Linked DNA regions of Homo sapiens. The protein of the gene in region 3 interacts with the protein of the main gene of each other region in a biochemical or structural test. Each region holds a gene or a part of one and is shown on either strand. Other genes may lie near its edges.

Region 1 (5,584 bases), on a different chromosome or scaffold from region 3:
TCCACAACCAATCAGACTGATTGCAGACTGAGTCTTCATTTGCATAGAAGTATAACTTTGTAACTTCATCCTAGCCTCTGATTGGTTGCTTTTGGCAACCAATCAGATGTTTCGCACAGGGGTGTGACCTTTGTAACTTCACTTAAGCCTCTGGTTGGCTGCTGTCTGCAACCAACTGATTGCAGGCTACCACTTCATTTACCTGAGGTGAGCATGAGTGGCCAATGGGAATCTTCTAAGGGGATATTTGGACCCAAGAAGATTCTGTATCTGGGCCCTTGAGCTGCTGCCTGGGTCCGCTCCCACACTGTGGAGCCTACTTTTGTTTTCAATAAATCCCTTTCGTTCTTTTGTTGCTTCATTCTTTCTGTGCTTTTCTGGGCGTTTTGTCTAATTATTTGTTCAAAACGCCAAGAACCTGGGCAACTTGCAGTCACAACCCTCTACCGGTGACACAACAACACCTCACCGCCCTTCATTCACCCTTGGAGTTGGCTGTGTCCAAGACTGCATCTCAGAGGAGGTGTGTGTCCAGAGGCCTCAGGGTCGCTCCTGGTGCCCTGCGAGGCGTGAGGCGAGTAGGATGGGATGGTGGCAGGTGGAGCTTGCGGAGGGCAGGAGCTAGCCTGGATGCAGCCCCCGCTAAGCTGTCCTGGGGCAGGTGGGCCCTTGGGGTCCTCCCTTGTAAGCTGCCCCCGGCCTGGCACTGCAAGAGCAAGTGGAGCCTCACCTGATTTCTCCATAGAGAGGGTGCAGGGGAAGGAGCAGGTGTGTTGGGAGGATTGCAAAGTCCAAGCAGACGTCAGCTGAGCTCATTCCACACGCCGCTGTCCCACTCTTTGGGGGCACTCCCAGCCCTTGTTGGTCTCAATGGCATTTCTCCCCTCCTGGGTTTCCTGGTCTGGTATCCTACCTACTGTACACATGCCCCAAACTCTGCTTTGAAGCCCAATTCTCACCACGTGGCATGACTGTCCCAGCTGGCCACCTTCCTGGAATTCAGCCCAAATCAGTACTTTTGGGAACTTCCTGCAAGGTTTCAAAGAAGCTTTTCTGACACACAGCCACCATGGAGGGTGTTCCAGTCCCCGGACCCTGCTGTGGACATGAGGACACCCATCCCCCACCAGCCGAGCCAGCTGCAAAGGCCTCATAATCCAGCCCCGGCCACCCAGAAGGACAGTGAGCACAGCCTATCTGAGAATGGTATTTGAATCTTTAAGAAAATGAGACTGACTCCAAAATCTAAAACTACCTTTATTGTGGTTGGCTCGACATAAGATGCCGCCATCAGCAGAATTATAAAACTGTACAGGAGGCACAAAAATAGGCTGTTTAACTTAGATAATGACCCTCATGTCTTCAAGCTTTAAAAATGCACATAAAAGTTGTACAATCTGGCAGTTTATAAAATATAAAGCTAAAAAGAGGATTTTGGGTTCCACAAAGAAGACTGTATCACACAATTAACACGTACTAATTAAACAATTAACCATCCACACAGAAGACATAATGGCACAGAATTCTTAAAAATCACCTAAAAATTAACATTTTACCCCGACCAAATTAATCACCCTTTAATAATAAGACTACTGTAAAGCATCCATCCCATGGAAGGATACAGTATCACTTTTCCAGTTTTAAAATGGTCAAGGGTGTTGTCCAAAACAAATCTGATGTGCTTTAAGCAAGTACAATTGTAACTGGATACATTTCAGAGTAAAAATTAAATAAATATAAATAGGTTAAATAAATAGGTCATTGCAAAAAGAACACTACACAAGGTTTACATCTGAGAATGCAGAGTAGGTGACTGGTAATGCTTTCTAGGTAAGTGGGGACTCCCCATCACAGCTTTAGGGACACTGAAAAGGAATACTGTATCCACCAAACACACACACAGTACACAGGGGAGGTGGGGGGGCTTTGGCCAAAGTGTTGGTTAAGGCTGCTCCAGTGGGAGGCTCACTGCAGTCACGTTCTTTGTGGCTTTCCAACGTCTACAGAAAGAATTTAAGCGCCGGTACAAAAAATCAGAACCAGAGTTACTCACGGGAAATCACTGTTTCATAAAGAAGGAGGGGAGTAGACCATTGGGTTTAAAAGATGATGTCCAACCTGGGAGGGTGGAATTTCGGCTCACCTGGAGAGGATGCCTGATGACTTCCTGCCAGGAGAAGCCAAAGCCAGGACATAGTCAACCAAAATAACTCCAGGTTGGTGAGGGAAGGGACAAGGAAAAGAAACACTGGGAAATTCAAAGAAAGGCAATCTCAGACACTAAAAGAGCAGAGAGAGAAAGCGACATGGGGGACTTAAAGAGGCTCCTTCCAGGGCGCTGGGCTTCTCTTCCAGCACAGAAGGCTGCAAAAGTGGAACTGGCCCCCAGTTCCCAGAGGATCACAAGGCCAAGGATCCAATGGGCACACCATGAGGACCCAAGGAAAGGACAGAGAAAGGAACGGCTCTGGGAAAGCCAAACCTGGCCAAAGTCCAACTTCCTGAAAAGAAAGCAGCCAAGAGGAGAAAGCCGTACAATCCAAAGGTCCCCCCATCTGCATGAACGGTTTGATCAGCAACCAATTAATCTCTCACTGCAGCAAGAAAAGAATTGCCAAAGATAACTGAATCGCATGCACACAAAACCTTACCAAAGGCTCAGGGTCAACTCTGATAAGGCCCTTTCTTCTAGAGTTGGTGGGAAGAAACTCTGCTGGATCTACTCACCTGCAGATCTTCCAGAACATCTATCTGTAACTGATCAGAGTGATGTCTCCTTGGAAGGGCCTCTGACCACCACTGCACTGAGAACACGGCGGGAGTGAGAACACCTGCGCACCCAGGATTTCACACTTAGCCACTAGATTGCTTCACAGCTAATCAGGGAAATGCCAGTGTTCCCCAGGTGAAAATGTTTTGGTGCCTAATGACTTGTGGAGCACTTCAAAAACTGAGATTAGGCCGGGTGCGGTGGCTCAAGCCTGTAATCCCAGCACTTTGGGAGGCTGAGGCAGGCGGATCACGAGGTTAGGAGATCGAGACCATCCTGCCTAACATGGGGAAACCCCGTCTCTACTAAAAAAAATATAAAAAATTAGCCGAGCGTGGTGGCACACACCTGTAATCCCAGCTACTCGGGAGGCTGAGGCAGGAGAATTGCTTGAACCAAGGAGGCGGAGGTTGCAGTGAGCTGAGGTCGTGCCACTGCACTCCAGCCTGGGTGACAGAGCGAGACTCTGTCTCAAAAAAACAAAAAACAAACGAAAAAACACTGAAATTAAAAAGACTCAAGAAGCAACAAGAGAAATTCTGGCACACGTGCCCAAGAGAGGTTTAGTAAGACAAGATTTAAATAAGTCATAGTGTCCTTTGGATTCCTAACAGATGTGACCAAGCTCCATCTTGAAGATAGCGTACAGTACTTCTAAAAAGCTCAACAGCCTTCCAGGATTGGAGAAGTCCCATAACCTGAACTACAGACCAAACAGCTAAGCCGCAACACGATATGTGATGGTGCAGAGCTGTTCTGGCCTGAAAAGAACTTTCCACTTGCTGAGCACAGTGGGAAACCAGAATTCTCGAGACTAGAACTGGATACACCAGATGATGCCCAAGGTGTTTTCATGACAAGTACCCACACGAGATCTCTTCAAACAAACCCCCCAGAGGATGGACGGGAACCAGGGCTCCTAAAGGCGACTAAGAGGAAAGACCAGAGGTGACCGGACCAGATCCCTGTGATTCTGGGACAGAAGAGATGTAAACCGCAAACACGCGCCCTTCCCCACACACTTTGGTTTCTTTGTGGCAGCAACACTTTTTTATTGTTCTCTCTCATCACAAGTTTTAGGAAAGCAGAAGTTTTGCCTGTCTTGTTCATCGCTGTATCTCCGGCACCCTATATCCTGCCTAGCTCAATACACTAAGTGCTCAAATAAAATACATTGAATAAATGATTTTGAGAAATCTGCGTGGTTAGAAACTAGTATGATAAGCAGAAAAGGCATCGGAAACAGTTGTCTCTAGGCAAGTGGGGCTAAAACAGGGAGATGACACAAAATTGGGTCACTAGAAATCACCTGGGTACTCCCAAAGAGAAAACCTGTGCTGAGAACGAGCTGGGCTGGGGGCACTCCCTGTGGCAGGCCTGTTAAATCACTCGTGGCACCTTCTCCACCTTCTGATCCTCTCTTGGGTTACTGCCAAAGCCCACAGGTAAAGCACCTTGCAGCCGTATGGGGAGCTCTGTCTCAGGCCACCTGGCATGCGGCATGGGAGCAGCAGGAAATGCGGTCTGGCCACGTTTCTGAACAACGCACAGCCTTGCTTAGAAGACGCCAAGGACACCGACCAAGGGCCAAGGTTCCAAGGCCTAAGTGAGGTAATCGATGAGATTTAAGGATGTAGGATCACGTTAATAGTAGGGAAAAAAGTCACTTTAGCTATGATGAAAGGAAGGGAACTGAATTCTACAAAGGCAGAATGAGAGCTTTTGATGAGTAACCATGATACAAATACACAAACAGAAAACATCTTACAACATGAAGAAACAGTGATTTCTCTGTGAGTAAAATTCAACAATCCCATTCTTAATACTGAATGGAATCTCTGAGTTCACCAGGCCTGAGCTGCAATGATCCCCCAACTGGCTGGAGAAAGTACATGGACAACATCTCCTTACACGGTAGGCTGATTGCATTTTAACCTCTAAGGCTCTCGGGAGAGAAAAGACAAAGTTTTGACTGAAACTAAAGCTAAAAATTATGTTAAGTTTAGAAAAAAAAATATGGTACAAACAATTTAGAGACTATTTCTTTGATACTGTTCAATACATTTACATAGTGTTGCTATAATGTTTTACTCTTCAGCATTAGAGAATGTTCTATACATGAACACTCTTGAGGGGATGGTGATTTTTGGTACCACAAAAAATAGAAGATGTATTCTATCTTGCATTTATTCTTCACAAGAAAGCTTCAAGTTTAGCTTACTTATGCTGACATAGCATTCTACAGTATAATCAAAATATAGTTATTAAAATTTGCCAAGAAAAACAAAAAAGCTGGCCCATGAAGCACACGGTGACCCTGGCCTTGGCCACCCACCCTGGCCCTGACTCACCACGAGCCTCTTGTTCCACCGGCCTTGGGGACGAAGGAGTTTGACTGCCTACTCGCTGGCCCAGGGCTTTCTCCTGGTGACCAGGAGGGTCCCATTCGGCGGCCTCCCTCTGGTCCTGAAGGCTGGCCCCTGTCTGGGTCTTCGCTGCTCTCCTTGAAGGCCAGGGAACTCTTTACCTCTTGCCCCAGGCGCTCCTGAGCACCACCCCGAGATGGCCCGGGACACACCCACCAAAGGCCACTGTTCTGGCCACTGGCACTGGGCCACGGCTGCCTCCAGAACAGAGCAGCCTCTTCATTTCTGAGACCTGCAGACACAACCCCACCTGCCAGCATGCATAGCTGACCAGTCCCTAATGCCACACCTCATGCTCATGGCTCCTGCTGCCTCTGCAGAAACACTAGTTAACAGTGACCTGGGCTACTCTGGGCACATCTGTGATCAATGAGAAATCTCACACTGC
Region 2 (8,081 bases), on a different chromosome or scaffold from region 3:
AATTTTGGAGGCTGAGGTGAGCAGATCACCTGAGGTCAGGAGTTCAAGACCAGCATGGCCAATATGGTGAAACCCTGTCTCTACTAAGATGGGTGTGGTGATGGGCGCCTGTAATCCCAGCTACTCTGGAGGCTGAGGTAGGAGAATCGCTGGAACCTGGGAAGCAGAGGTTGCAGTGAGCCGAGATCACGCTATTGCACTCCAGCCTGGGCAACAAAGCAAGACTCCATCTCCAAAAAAAAAGAATGTTCTATGTAAAATTTTGCAAAGTATATCTTATGATGCGAAAAATAAAGTTGATGTTTCAGTGAATTCCCACTTTAGTCATTTTTTTTTTTTTTTTTTTTTTGAGATGGAGTTTCATTCTTGTTGCCCAGGCTGGAGTGCAATGGCTCGATCTTGGCTCACCACAACCTCCACCTCCCAGGTTCAAGCGATTCTCCTGCGTCAGTCTCCCGAGTAGCTGGGATTACAGGCATGGGCCACCATGCCCAGCTAATTTTATATTTTTAGTAGAAACGGGGTTTCTCCATGTTGGTCAGGCTGGTCTCGAACTCCTGACCTCAAATGATCCACCAGCCTCAGCCTCCCACAGTGCTGGGATTACAGGTATGAGCCACCACGCCTGGACCGCTTTAGTCATCTTGAAAATAAAATACATCAAGAATGTATACTGATTTGGGGCCAGGCATGGTGGCTTACGCCTATAATCCCAGCACTTTTGGGAGGTGGAGGCAGGTAGATCACTTGAGGTCATGAGTTCGAGACCAGCCTGGCCAACATAGTGAAACCCTCTCTGTACGAAAAATACAAAAATTAGCCAGGTGTGGTGGTGGGCACCTGTAATTTCAGCTACTTGAGAGGCTAAGGCAGGAGAATTGCTTGAACCTGGGAGGCAGAGGTTGCAGTGAGCAGAGATCACGCCACTGCACTACAGCCTGGTGACAGAGCAAGACTCTGTCTCAAAAAAAAAAAAAAAGGAATGGATGCTGAGTTGGGCCACATGAACTGACCCAAATAGAATTACAAAGCATGTAAATGTCAATGACATATCTGGGGGCCAAAATTTATCACCCTTGTTGAAGGTACTCCTGCTTACAGAAGTCCAAGGAAAACCTACCCTGTAACAGACACAGATTCCCCTACAACCAAACTAAATCCTAGTATTACCAAATCCAACTCTTCACAAACACTGCTTTGTGAAAGTTATTCAGTATATATTAGAAATTACATGTGCACCTGTAGCTTCTTGTACTAGAAAAAACAAAAGCTGGAATTCATTCTTAACATTCCAAAATGTGTTCATACATTTTTCCAATTATTTTGTACATTAGCTAATACTCTCATCTGTTAACTGCTACCATTAGATTGTAAAATCTTGACTGCAATAGATTTTACACTGTCTAATCACCATGTGCTACACATTATGTGCGTTAGGAAGATGAAATACCACCTTGTGTACCCTTATACCCAAGTAGTAACATGGCATTTAAAGCTTCCAATCCGTGTCCTTCTGAGGGATACTGGTCTACTTGGGTTTGAACCCAACACCCTTACATCACGCAACTTCTAGCCTTCCCATATCGGTAACCAGCAAATTAAATTTCCTGGGTGGTTTCCACTTTGCTGACTGAACTCTGATATTTAAGTATTTTTCTTGGACTTTGAATAAAATGGAATTTTCCTTAAAATTTCAAAGGTTGTAGTTTCTTGCTACTAACATCAGAGGTCTAATTAAACTCTTTTGTAATATAAGTACATACGACTGAAACAATGTAAAGTGTGTGTAAAATTTTTTTTAAAACTACAATTATGATGGCAAAGTAACTTTACTGACCATGTATGATCCTGATCCTTAAGATTAATAATTTATGCATTTTACTTTAATTTACTCCTTAAATGACTTGGAATAGAGATACATTTATACATACTGAATAACTTAATGTAATTATAAAATAATGTATTAAGTCCCAGTATTAAATTTTGAAAAATCAATGTTATTACTTCATTCTTTGAAGTGTTTCGCATAAATAATCATAAACATTTAAAATAGCAGGTGTTTCAGGGAACATGAGAGCTCTCTGTATTATTTCTTAAAACTGCATGTGAAGTTTGAGAAGTATCTTAAAAAGTTTACCTATGGAAATAGCAATTTTAAAGCAAACAACAAAAATATTTAAGTGCTATTAAAATATGAAAGCAAATCTGAACTAATTCTTGCGCTGCATCGGTGTTGTAAGATATAGTAAAGCACAATGTATAAAATTCATTCTAAAAAACTTAAAGGCTTTTTTCAGTTTGTTTTTTAAACATAATTACTCTAAGGCCAAGCACAGTGGCTCACGCCTGTAATCCCAACATTTTGGGAGGCCGAGGCAGGCAAATCACTTGAGGTCAAGAGTTCCAGTCCAGCCTGGCCAAAATGGCAAACCCTGTCTCTACTAAAAGTACAAAAATTAGCCGGGTATGGTGGCGGGAGCCTGTAATCCCAGCTACTCGGGAGGCTGAGGCAGGAGAATCGCTTGAACCTGGGAGGTGGAGGTTGCAATGAGCCGAGATCGCACCACTGGACTCCAGCCCGGGCGACAGAGCAAGACTCCGTCTCAAAACAATAACAAAAAAAGATTAATTATTCCAGACTATCTTCCCCTAGTGAGAGAAAGCCGATATCATACGGAAGAAAGCAGTCTGTTAAATATTACACTTCTCTCCACCCTCGATTTTTCTTTTTGTCCTCCAAGTCATGACAGCCAGAACACTTCTAATCATTCATTGGGCTCACCTCAGAATTGTCCATGGCGGCTTTCAATATGTTGGAGTGTGCATTGACAGCCTGGACCGCAGCATTCTGAGCTGCAATAGCCTGCAGAGTGACACTTGCAGTTTGCCTCAGAGCATCTTCTAAGCTCTTGGCTAGAGCTTAAAAAAAAAAAAGAACAGTTAAAAAACAAATCCTACCCCCATAAATGACTTTAAACTTTTGCTGTTCTCCTATCTAGTCTTCCATTGCATTTCCCAAAAAATTTAAAAAGGAACAAAATACATGAGACTCAAATTTAGGGAATCAAAGTTTCACTTAAAAGTATGGTAAAGGCCGGGCGCAGTGGCTCATGCCTGTAATCCCAGCACTTTGGGAGGCCGAGGCGGGCGTATCACAAGGTCAGGAGTTTGAGACCAACCTGACCAATGTGGTGAAACCCCGTCTCTACTAAAAATACAAAAATTAGCCAGGCATGGTGGCGGGTGCCTGTAGTTCCAGCTACCTGGGAGGCTGAGGCAGGAGAATCGCTTGAACCTGGGAGGTGGAGCTTGCAGTGAGCCGAGATCATGCCACTGCACTCTAGCCTGGGCGACAGAGCGAGACTCTCTCAAAAAAAAAAAAGAAAACATGGTAAAATACTGATAATTTAGTCTGGATGATAAATCTATGAAGCTTTATTACACTTCTTTTTTTTTTTTTTTTTGAGACAGAGTCTCGCTCTGTCGCCCAGGCTGGAGTGCAGTGGCGCGATCTCGGCTCACTGCAAGCTCCGCCTCCCGGGTTCACGCCATTCTCCTACCTCAGCCTCCCGAGTAGCTGGGACTACAGGTGCATACCACCACGCCCAGCTAATTTTTTTGTATTTCTTAGTAGAGACGGGGTTTCACCATGTTAGCCAGGATAGTCTCCATCTACTGACCCCATGATCCGCCCACCCTGGACTCCCAAAGTGCTGGGATTACAGGCGTGAGCCACCGTGCCCGGTTTTTTGTTTTTTGTTTTTTTTTTTTTTTTTGGAGACGGAGTCCCACTCTATCGCCCAGGCTAGAGTGCAGTGGCACCGTCTCAGTTCACTGCAACCTCCGCCTCCTGGGTTCAGGCGATTCTCCTGCCTCAGCCTCCTGAGTAGCTGGGACTACAGGTGCCTGCCACCACGCTCAGCTAATATTTTGTATTTTTAGCAGACAGGGTTTCACCGTGTTAGCCAGGATGGTCTCGATCTCCTGACCTCGTGATCCATCCACCTCAGCCTCTCAAAGTGCTGGGATTACAGGCGTGAGCCACCGTGCCCAGCCTACTTTTTCTTTTCTGTATATCTAAACTTTTTCAAAATAAAAAGTGTTTTTTTTTTTCAAAATTATTTAAAGAAGGGTAATGTATTTCAAATGGGAGAAACAAGGTTTAGGACACTATAGCCCCTTTTACATATTGTGGCTATAAACTCAACAAATCCATCAGCTTTCTTCATTTTAAACAACAATCGTAACAGGGAAAAAGAGGTGCCCATTTCATCCCCTTGGCAAGAAGGAATACTCATAGCAAAACACTTATGTTGACAAGATACAAGAAAACAGACAAGAGAAAGAAAAAGACAAATAAGAAAACAGGTCAAAAAATACAAAACAAAACCCAAAGGCAACTTGAAATGGACAGTGTTCTTCCATAAAAGGACTCAAGAAATAGCAGACACCAATGTTCAAGAGGCTTCCATCTATTAAGATCACATTTCTATATGCTGTTTCGGGAATACCAAAAAGTAAAGCAAATGACAATTTTAGATAATTTACTAAAATGCAAAAATAAATGGTCATTTGAAGAAAGGCGGCTAGTAAGAATACTAATTTAATAATAAATGGGCCGGCGCAGTGGCTCACGCCTGTAATCCCAGCACTTTGGGAGGCCGAGGCAGGTGTATCACCTGAGGTCAGGAGTTCGAGACCAGGCTGGCCAACATTGTGAAACCCCGTCTCTACTAAAAATACAAAAATTATCCAGACATGGTGGTGGGTGCCTATAGTCCCAGCTACTCAGGAGGCTGAGGCAGGAAAATCGCTTGAACCTGGGAGTTGGAGGTTGTAGTGAGCCGATATTGCACCACTGCACTCCAGCCTAGGTGACAGAGTGAGACTCTGTCTCAAAACAAATTAATTAAATAAATGATATCACATGACAAAAAATAAAAAATGTATTTGACAAGCGAGAAAAAAAGATGATTTTGAGGAAAAGAAGCATAAACTAGCAATGAACAAATGGAATCTGAGGAACTACAAATGGTACCTCTGCAAGAAAGATAAGAGGAAAACTAATAAGGAGAAAATAAAAAGAAATTGACAGAAGTGATAGAAGTGAAATGAGAGCAGGGGATACAACAAGAGAAAGGGGCAAGGGAGAGAAACCGTGGTATTTGGATCCCATGACATGCGTGAGTGAACAGTGGACATCAAGTACAGGCAGTTGTGAACCACTTTATGGAGGCCACAGAAAGTGGGCTGCTGGGAGGCACCTGCTGCTTCCAGCCCTCTTCAGAGGTTTAGTCACTGTCCTTTGATCCTTGATAAATATTTCACATGCAAATGCATATGTGTATATTTTTAAAGTCAAGTTTGAGGGGGAATTAAGAGGTGACAGATAAAATTCTGAAAATTTTCACTTTGCCCAAAATGAAAGATGAGAGGAACCAGGCAAGGAAAAGAACAGCTGGAACAGCAGACATCTCCATCTTACGTTTATAACTTAATTTCAAGGTGCCCAAGTGATAAAGAGAGAAAAGTGAAAAGTGAAGAAAAAACAGGACTAAAAGAAAAAAGAAGTAGGAAAAATGAAATATTTCACTTAGTTAGAAGTCATTTATTAAATATTCACAAATATTTGTAACACAATCAGAAGAATACAAAAAATCAAAAACGAAAATCCAAATCCAAGTAGGAAAACTAATGCCATAGGCACAGAATGACACCTATGCTATTCTAAGAAACTTGGTTCCTCAGGGTAGGGCAGAACCAGCACATTACAAGGGAAACAGGAGCAAAACAAATGACAAGGAGATCAAAAAACTATAAACAGCTGCCATGAGTACTGAACTCTCTGTCCAGCAAAAAGCTACATCCCACGACCTCCAGAGACATCAACATATTATAGCACAGTACAAAAAATTATGTTACATGTGCTTTAAGACAGAAAAATAAATTGATAAATATCTATTATCTTTTTTAAACCATCAAAAAATTTAAGAATCCTGACCTACCGAGGACAGCAAAAATAATAATAATGATAAAAAAAACTTGGCCAGGTGTGGTAGCTCATGCCTGTAATCCCAGCACTTTGGGAGGCCAAGGTGGGAGGATTTCTTGAGGCCAAGAGTCCAACACTACCCTGACCAACACAGTAAGAGCCCATCTCTTAAAAACAAACAAACAAAAAAACCATAAAACTGAAACTTAAAAAGGAATATGCTTGTTAGCTGGAAACCAGCGATGTGTAGAACATTCCATGCCCCACCAGTGTCAGATAAAAGCACTACTAGAGAGTCCAGAGGCTAGATGATAAGGCAGTGTAAGCCATTCTGACTCCAACAAATAAATTTACAATTATTAATAAACAATTATTTACAAGTATAAATTAACAATTATTAATAAAAGACTCTTAGGGCTGGGTACAAGGGCTCAGGCCTGTAATCCCAGCACTTTGGGAGTTCAAGGTGGGAGGATCACTTGAGCCCAGGAGTACGAGACCAGTCTAGGCAACATAGTGAGATGCCTGTGTCTATAAAAAATTTTTAAAAAATTAGCTGGGTATGGTGGTACACGCCTGTAGTCCCAGCTACAGAGGAGGCTGAGGTGGGAGGATGGCTTTGGCCTGGGAGGTTGAGGCTGCAGTGAGCCATGACAGTGCCACCGCACTCCAGTCTGGGTGACAGAAAAGAGCCTATCTCAAAAAAATAAATAAAGGACTTTTAGGCAAGCTGCTAAAACATAAATAATCAATTTCTGTTTCCCAGAGTATAAAGAATCTTTAGCGCTAACATAATCTTTAGTATTATTTGGAGTTTTCACCAACTATACACTAAGAATAGCCTTTGTCACTTAGGTAAAAGAAGTTTAGATGAAATGAAGGTGATGAATAAAGCAATGCCACTAAAAAACAACCGCAGCAACAAAAGAAACCACAACTAGGTGATAGATGACAAACTTGTGCTGATAGTTTAAGAAGAGAGCAACTGGGAGATGACCCAAAATCCTTAAGAAGCTGTCTGGTTTACATACACTCAATTTTAACTTGTTCTTGTTTTTCCTGTTGTGCAAGGCGAGCTGCAACTTCTTCAGGTGGTCGCTCCCTTATAGAAGATGAGGATGCTTCTTCTTGCAGCAAAAGTAAATAAGAGGAAATCAAATTTCAGCATAGAATTTTAATAGCTAACAGGGATATAAAAAAAGCATCGTTTGTACTGGCCAGTTATATCAATGCAGGGCATTTTTGTGTTAAGAATTCTAAAACCATATCATTACTCTTAATGATTCCAAAATGAAGAAATAGGAATCAGGCTTTAATCTTCTTGTTTAAAAAGATACATTCGGACATTTAAATTTTAAAAATTTCCTAAGAAACTCTGAAGACCTAAACCTAGTGTAAATGTATACTTAGTGTCTACGTGTTGCCTAGGCATTAAATAGTTCTGATGAGTGTATCATGTATAAAAGAACAAATAGAAATAATTAAATTACCTGAAAGTGCAGGTGTGGGTTTTCCTTCACCAATTTCAGGGTGATCAGTTTTTAAAGATTCCTCAGGCTGAACTGCAGGGGCTGGGACCGACAGGGTATCACCTGCTGCAGAAATAATTTGAGCCGCTTCTGTAGGTGCTATAAATATATGTTACTCATGGTATTTATACTTTCCTGGGTTAACAGAGAAACACACAGAAATTTACTACCACCATCACCACCCACTTCACATCTGACTCCTTAGAGACACAAATATTTGTACTGCCACATGTTTGAATAACACACAAACAGGGGCACTGTCCACTGCATACATAAACTCACACAAAATGGACAATGGTTGGGAACGAACAAAAGAAAGAAGTCTTGTCTGCATCCACCTGCATTTTAACCATCATTATTCCAGGCAAGGCTTATAATAATAATATTAACACACAAGAAGGGGACATTTACACATGGAAAAAGAGTAACAAAGGAAAAAGCCTGTTAATGATGAAGACAGACAAAAGAAAGCAACTAAACAAAGAATATTTTTTAATTGCTTTGAAGAGTGGTAGAAGACGTGTGAGCAGGAAAAAGATTACAGTTTTAAACAAAAAGAT
Region 3 (8,081 bases):
TTGAGGAGATTATGACTTTCACAGAAATCCTTTTAGGTTCTTTATTGCTGTTACATTCTAAGGATCACCCAAGCTCTACTAGGGTAAGTTAAGAAAACACTATCATAATAAGGAAAATGAAAAGGAAAGGGCTAACATACTTCCACATCATGTGAGTTGTTTACATTGGTTAAATATGTATTTTATTGTTACTATCATATTGTGTTAAATCCCAAATTTAGGGAAATGAATCAATGGTTCAAAAGAGTAAAAGTGAAAAATACATTTAACTCAGAATGCCATAAATGATAATAGTATGATTTTATAGTGAAGACTGATCTTAGAATGAGCTGTGACCAGTGAACTAGGAGTGATAACACTGTACTAGGAGACATCCTTGTTCCCACCGTATTGTGATACATTATTAAATAGGGACAAGAAGCCACTGAAGTGTTCATATCATTTTCAACAACTCCAGTAAACCAACCAAAGCCTCCACTATGAATTCTGTCATTAAAAGATCAAAATAATAGTCAAAGGTACTTCTTTTAACAAAACAGATTCAACTACTGTCAGCTGCAAAATTAATGACAAATGTGCTCAGACAGAAACAAAACAATCTACTGGCAAAATTCTATCATCAGATGACACTATCGGACATTACGTGCTACGTGTGTTATACAGAGAGGAAGAACAATTATTATCACAGATGCAGGCTCTTAAGTATTTTGTTTAATGGCTGCATGAAGCCACTAGCGTACAGAGTACGAATCAACTCTTAGTATATACGAATGTAACATGTTAATCAAGAAATACAAGCAACTTTTTAAAAGTTTTAGAAGAAGATATTTTCTTTTAACCAACAATTATTTTTGAAACTTGAATTGAAAAGTTGTGCTGGAATCAGCATAGCTAGAGCACTAGCTTTGTGTGCAGCAATGAAGAGCCCACCACCTGAAAGCCAATTCACACATGGCTTCATTTACAGACAACAGCTGGCTTGAGTCATTGTTAATAACTGCATGGAAAATTGTGAATATAATTAAAATTGCAGCCCTTGAATAGGTATCTTCAGCATGTTAAGAATGCAGCGGCAGGCTGGGCACACAGTGGCTCATGCCTGTGATCCTAGCACTTTGGGAGGCCAAGGTAGGTGGATTGCTTGAGCCCAGGAGTTTGAGACAAGCCTGGACAACATAGCAAGACCCAACCTCTATTGGCGGGGGGGGGCGGGGGGAAGCAGCAGCAGCAAATACTCTGTTTTTCTGTTTTGTCAAGAGGAAATATGCTAACAATACCTACTCAAATGAAGGATATACTTTTTTTTTTCTTTTTTTGAGACAGAGTCTTGCTCTGTCGCCCAGGCTGGAGTGCAATGGTGTGAGCTTGGCTCACAGCAACCTCTGCCTCCCAGGTTCACGTGATTGTCCTACCTCAGCCTCCCAAGTAGCTGGGATTACAGGCGCCTGCCACCACGCCTGGCTAATTTTTGTATTTTTAGTAGACACAAGGTTTCACCATGTTGGCCAAGCTGGTCTTGAACTCCTGATATCAGGTGATCCGCCTGCCTTGGCCTCCCAGTGTTGGGATTACAGGCGTGAGCCACCGTGCCCAGCGGATATTCATTTTTTTTTATAACACTGATGTCATTAAAACATATCTATGATTTTAAGCGGCTAACTCAAGTGCCATACCTCTATGACAGACAGTATAGTGACCAGCTTGAACATATCATTTGAGAGTAAAATTATAATTCTCTCTTTTATTTAAGATTGGTTTCACTCTGTCACCCAGGCTAGAGGGTAGTGGCGCAATCATAGCTCAATGCAGCCCCAAACTCCTGGGCTCAAGTGATCCTCCCAGCTGAGCCTCCCGAGTAGCTAGGACTTACAACAGGTGTGCTCCATCACACTTGGCTAATTTTTTTTCTTTTTCTTTTTCTTTTTTGTAGAGAGACAAGGTTTTGCTATGTTGCCTAGGCTGATCCTGACCTCGTAACCACAAGCAATCCACCCACCTGAGCCTCAAAAGTGCTGGGATTACAGATGTGAGCTACCATGACTGGCCACAATTCTTTTTTGTTGTTCAGACAGGGTCTCACTCTGTCTCCCAAGCTGGAGTACAGTGGCGCAATCACAGCTCACTGTGGCCTCCACCTCACAGGCTAAGGCAATCCTCCCACCTCAGCCTCCTGAGTAGCTGGGACTACAGGTGTGTGCCACCATGCCCAGCTAATTTTTTTTTGTTATTTTTGGTAGAGATGGAGTTTCACCCTGTTGCCCAGGCTGGTCTCAAGCAATCTACTCGCCCCAGCTTCCCAAAGTGTTGGGATTACAGGTGTGAGCCACTGTGACCCGCCACAATTTTTTTTTTTAGCACGGCGTCTCGCTCTATCTCCCAGGCTGGAGTGCTGTGGCGCTATCTTGGCTCACTGCAAGCTCTGCCTCCCGGGTTTACGCCATTCTCCTGCCTCAGCCTCCCGAGTAGCTGGAACTAGAGGCACCTGCCACCAAGGCTGGCTAATTTTTTTGTATTTTTAGTAGAGATGGGGTTTCACTGTGTTAGCCAGGATGGTCTCGATCTCCTGACCTCGTGATCTGCCAGCCTTGGCCTCCCAAAGTGCTGGGATTACAGGTGTGAGCCACCGCGCCCGGCCCGGCCACAATTCTTAGTAACAAAATATGCAGACTAAATAATGATACAAATGGCTTAACCAAAGAGTTTTACTCTTTTCTTTTTTCTTTGAGATGGAGTCTCGGCTCTGTCGCCCAGGCTTGTGTGCAGTGGCACGATCTTGGCTCACTGCAACCTTTGCCTCCTGGGTTCAAGCAACTCTTCTGCCTCAGCCTCCTGAGTAGCTGGGACTACAGGCACACGCCACCATGTCCAGCTAACTTTTGTATTTTTAGTAAAGACATAGTTTCACCATATTGGCCGGGTTGGTCTCGAACTCCTGACCTCGTGATCTGCCCGCCTCTGCCTCCCAAAGTGCTGGGATTACAGGCGTGAGCCGCCACGCCCAGCCAAGATTTACTCTTTTCTAACAACTAGGTAGACTTAAAACCATATTCAATTACTGCACTAAACCTGAAAACATATTTCCTAGAACTGAATTCAACCAAAAGGACAGATCTACACATTGCCATCTCCAAAATTAAAATACTCAACTTTGCTTTCGAGTGCCATACACTTGTCAACTTGATGTAGTTTTCAGTGAGAATTCTTGTAATAATTTTTGTGTCCATTTGAATATCTAAAACATCTAATAGAAATATTTAATTGTTGCTCTTCCCAACTCTATAATTCAAAGGTGGGGCTATCTAATTTAGTACAACTAAGAGCAAGAAAAGAAATCAGTTAAATATGAAACCTTAACTTGGACTTTAGTGAGTCTTTCACCATTCATGTGGTGGTACAATAATGTGAACAATCATTGCTTTTCCTGATACTGATTTAAAAATACTTCTTTGATCTTACAATAAAAACATTTTGAATTATTCTTTTGTGTTTATCTAAAATCAGTGGTATGCACTGAAGACCCATCACATGGTCCACAAATTCCAAATGTTTGAAAACACTACTTTCTCTACTACACTACTTCCCCTTCAAAGGAAGCTATCATTTCTTCCTGTGCATGTTAGAGAAAAACAGAGAACCAAGGACATTTTGTTTGCCCTTATTATTAATCTTCTCATATTAGAAAAGCACTTCATTATCTGCATTTATGTTGCCACATTTTCAAAAACATTGGTCTGATTTCAGTATGAATAGCACTTATAAAAAACAATATATATAATAATTATTTCCAATTTTTCCTGAATTCCCTCTGCCCCCAAAGACATTCTTTCCTTATGACCTTCCCAGAACCCAAGCTGCCTTCCTATACCTCTTGGTTACAGTCAAGGGTTATAAAAAAATGTTTAACAACTGGCATGGTATAAACACCAAACCAAGAGATTGACACCAATTTATAACTGTATGGCTGTAATGGAACAGGCTCACTAAATATCAGCCTTAGTTATACTGCTGCTAAAGAAGCAGCCTTAGAATGCTTCTTGTAAGCAGTCTGCTATACTTTTTTTCCATGCTAGGCCTGTTCTCAAAGATCTTTGGTTATTTCTTACCTGCCACTTCACAGAAAAGGGATAGCAGGGTTCATGAAAGAAACCACATAAATTGGATTCCAAAGATGAGTTTAACGTCACATCTTATTAAATATTTAATTTCTCTACTTTTATTCCTTAAAAGGAAGAATTAAGGAGAAGTATTAGAACATACTACTGCTTTCTTTCTCTTACACCGTCTCCAGATAATTAAGCTAAGTTAGTTTTTTTTTTAAAAGTCAGCTTTTTATTAGAGCTTTGTTATTCAATTATATCCACACAGGTATGCAAGTTCTTTCTCCTTTCTATCAAACAGACAGTTAATACACAGGCAAATGGATAAATTTGGGGATATATTAAGGATACTGTAAACTGTTAGCAAAAGAAATAAATGTCTGACATTCAGAGAGGAAACAAGAGAAAGGGAATATAGAAATTCACACCCTAAAAAAAAGAGGTGGTTCATTTTAAAATGAACTTATAAAGTTATATATAATAACATCAACTATATCTGTGTTGTTTTTAAAGATATTCTTACCCAATTTTGGAAAAACTATTAGGTATTCAGCATTGCACTGAGGACATGCCACTCTGGCTGTACTGTTTCCTCTTTGCTTTTCATCCACCCAGCGTTGTAGACAGGCCTGGTGAACCCATTTTGTAGATCCTCTGCACCTGCATGGTCTCACCCATTCAGCTGTTCTATCATCTTCATCAGTAGCAAAACAAACCCAGCAACTTCTGTAAATTAAAAGAGAAAAGGATGACATTTATATCTTTAGGACTCCAGCCTCCTCTATACTGCAGCTCTTACTTAATGGGATGAGCCTGCTATGTTATATTACAGAATCTCTGTCCTATATTAAAAGACTAAGGAGACAAAACAACCAATACATTCCCACTAGAGCAGTTTCTACTTTTTCTGTTTTTCCTTGTCTTCCTCTACAGAACTTATGTTTTCTGAACTTTGTTTTTATGTAATCTCCTCTATCTTTTCAGTAATTCTTCACCTTCTCTAATGAACCAGAGTGCAAGGAGACAAACCTCAAGTTGTTTTTGTTATAAGACCTAATAATTCTTTGAGGAATAGTAAGCACAGTAATATATTAAATTCAGTGTTCTCCCCAGTTCACCACCACCAATCCCTTGAACTTGGAAAAACAAAGTATTACACGAGTGATTTCACATACAGTCTCATTCCATTTTTCAGCTGAGGAAAAAAAAACCCATTTTTCTTTCCGGTAAAGTATAAACATGAGAGAAAACAATATTACATTTTCAAAAAAGCACAAAGGAGATAAATATATCAAGATTTTTTTTTTTAGAATAGCAATATGATAAATTTGGGCGTGTATGCTTGAAATCTGAAATCTAGAAGTATCAAGTCTGGGGTGCTTATATTAATAAAAATAAAATTCTATTGAGATCGGTAATTTTAAAACATTTTCCCACTTTGCTTTTAAGGGTACTTCATGAATTGTAATTTTTTCTTGTGGAATTAGGTTGTAATTCCTCAGTTTTTCTCCCAATTAACACAAGTTTTGACATCGATTTCCATCAGGGCAAATACAGTTCAATTCAATGAGACCCTTCGCTCCTCCCCTCCATTAGAACTTGTACAAGTGGAAACAACTGCTAATTAAAGCATGTTACCTACTGTGCACTTTTTAATTAATTGGATAAGTGGCTTCTGTCAGAACAACTAGCTTAACTATGCTCAGTGGGAAAGACTATATACTCAGGTATTATAGATGGGTGAGGTTCTCCAGTCCTTGTGGAACAACATGAATTTCAATTGTGTGCTCCAATTACAATTTTTCAATTAGAACAGAAAAAAAGTTGAACTGAATCCAGGGCATCAATATCCAAAATAGTTGTTTTATTCAGCTTTCAAATTCAGTCAGGTTTCATAAGATCTAAGTAAAATTAGAACGTAGGTAGCATTTGTTTAGCATTCTGACCCTTTTGACCCACTTTAGCTAAGCTGTCTGGGCCTTCACATTGTCTTATGGTTGTCCAAAAATACTTTGTTCTTTTTTAAAAAATTTTATCGTCAAATAGACATAGCATAAAATCTACCATTTTAGCCATTTTTTAGGTGTATAATTCAGTGGCAGTAAGTATATTCATACTGTTGTGCAACCACCAAGACTACCCATAGTAGGACTGGGTTCTAACCTATGATTTTTGCATAAAATTTCAATTGGTAAGTATACTAGCACACAGGCTGGTTAAGATGTTGTTAGTATATATTTTTCCCCACAACTGAGGTAATTTTGTGGACATATTTGTATACATCTAGGAAATGGAATGTATCATTTTAGCAACAAAATACTGGCAGAATATTTAGAGACTCTTTAGTCTCATACTTTCTTAACACAAACGTAAATAAGAATAGCTACATCAGCATAATTAATCAGTATTATGGTGAATCACATTTTAAATTAATCCAATTTCAGTCATCAGAAAAATAAAATACAATGTTAGGACTAGGTTGAACCAACTGAAATAGTCTACATTAATCTGTTTCTGACTTACAGAAAAGATAGGTCAAATTTCATATTTTGATCTAATGAGAATACTTGTGTAGCTATTATATTCCTTATAAATTCTAGATAAGGTTTATTTTTCCCAAACATTTTATTATGAAAAATTTCAAACTTTCCAAAAAAAGTTAAAAACTGTTCAGTGACTACCCATATACCCAACATTTAGATTCTATAATTCTTATTCTGCTATATTTGCTTTCTCACACATCCATTCATTATTCTTATTTTTTGCTGCATTTCAAAGTTGCAGGCATCAGTATATTTCAGTCCTAAATACTTGTACAGATTTACTTTTTAGAACTGACATTTAAAGCATGCACTTGGCCGGGTGCCGTGGCTTAAGCCTGTAATCCCAGCACTTTGGGAGGCTGAAGCGGGCGGATCACAAGGTCAGGAGATTGAGACCATCCTGGCTAACACGGTGAAACCCTGTCTCTACTAAAAATACAAAAAAATTAGTTGGGCATGGTGGCGGGTGTCTGCAGTCCCAGCTACTCAGGAGGCTGAGACAGGAGAATGGCGTGAACCCGGGAGGCGGAGCTTGCAGTGAGCCAAGATCGCGCCACTGCACTCCAGCCTGGGCAACAGAGCAAGACTCCGTCTCAAAAAAAAAAAAAAACAAAAAACAAACAACGCACGCACTTATGCACTTTCAGTTTTTTTTCTAATTAATTTCACAACTATGGTAAATAAGATAGCTGAATGATGATTCAGAGTGCGTACTTATCAGGAGTTAGGCTTTCAGTTGAAATAGCAGTATTAGAGGCATGTGAACCAGAGCAACTCCGTCTTGATTGAATAGGAGCTGGGTAAAATGAGGCTGAAACCTACTGGGCTGCATTCCCAGATGGTTAAGGCATTCTAAGTCACAAGATGATATATGAGGTCAGCACAAAATACAGGTCATAAAGATACTGCTGATAAAACAGGTTGCAGTAAAGCCAGCTAAAACCCACCATAACCAAGATGCTCACGAGTGACCCCTGGTCGTCCTCACTGCTACACTCCCACCAGCACCATGACAGTTTACAAATGCCACGGCAACGTCACGAAGTTACCCTATATGATCTAGAAAGGGGAAGCATAGGCTGGGCGCGGTGGCTCATGCCTATAATCCCAGCACTTTGGGAGGCTGAGGAGGGCGGATTATGAGGTCAGGAGATCGAGACCATCCTGGCTAATATGGTGAAACTCCGTCTCTACTAAAAATACAAAAAAATTAGCCAGGCGTGGTGGCAGGTGCCTGTAGTCCCAGCTACTCGGGAGGCTGAGGCAGGAGAATGGTGTGAACCCAGGAGGCAGAGCTTGCAGTAAGCTGAGATCGTGCCACTGCACTCCAGCCTGGGTGACAGAGTGAGACTCCATCTCAAAAAAAAAAAAAAGGGGGGAAGCATAAATAATCCTCTCCTTGTTTAGCATATCATCAAGAAATAACCATAAAAATGGGCAA

What was found. Proteins that work in one complex are often made in the same cells at the same time.
Region 1: of the proteins of MARCHF5 (region 3) and ERN1, one has a biochemical effect on the other in vitro, tested with the Homo sapiens proteins (one study listed by BioGRID).
Region 2: the proteins of MARCHF5 (region 3) and IMMT form a complex in vitro, tested with the Homo sapiens proteins (one study listed by BioGRID).

The regions. Positions count from the first base shown.
Region 1 is NC_000017.11:64,037,905-64,043,488, forward strand, and holds the end of ERN1 (serine/threonine-protein kinase/endoribonuclease IRE1 precursor), read right to left. Parts: 3' UTR 1,238-5,584; downstream 1-1,237. UniProt on the Homo sapiens protein: Serine/threonine-protein kinase and endoribonuclease that acts as a key sensor for the endoplasmic reticulum unfolded protein response (UPR).
Region 2 is NC_000002.12:86,163,726-86,171,806, forward strand, and holds part of IMMT (MICOS complex subunit MIC60), read right to left. Parts: intron 7,657-8,081; exon of another isoform or gene 7,621-7,656; coding exon 7,483-7,620; intron 7,120-7,482; coding exon 7,024-7,119; coding exon of another isoform or gene 7,016-7,023; exon of another isoform or gene 5,588-7,015; intron 2,920-5,587; coding exon 2,783-2,919; intron 1-2,782. UniProt on the Homo sapiens protein: Component of the MICOS complex, a large protein complex of the mitochondrial inner membrane that plays crucial roles in the maintenance of crista junctions, inner membrane architecture, and formation of contact sites to the outer membrane.
Region 3 is NC_000010.11:92,307,877-92,315,957, reverse strand, and holds part of MARCHF5 (E3 ubiquitin-protein ligase MARCHF5), read right to left. Parts: intron 4,824-8,081; coding exon 4,621-4,823; intron 1-4,620. UniProt on the Homo sapiens protein: Mitochondrial E3 ubiquitin-protein ligase that plays a crucial role in the control of mitochondrial morphology by acting as a positive regulator of mitochondrial fission and as an important regulator of immune response.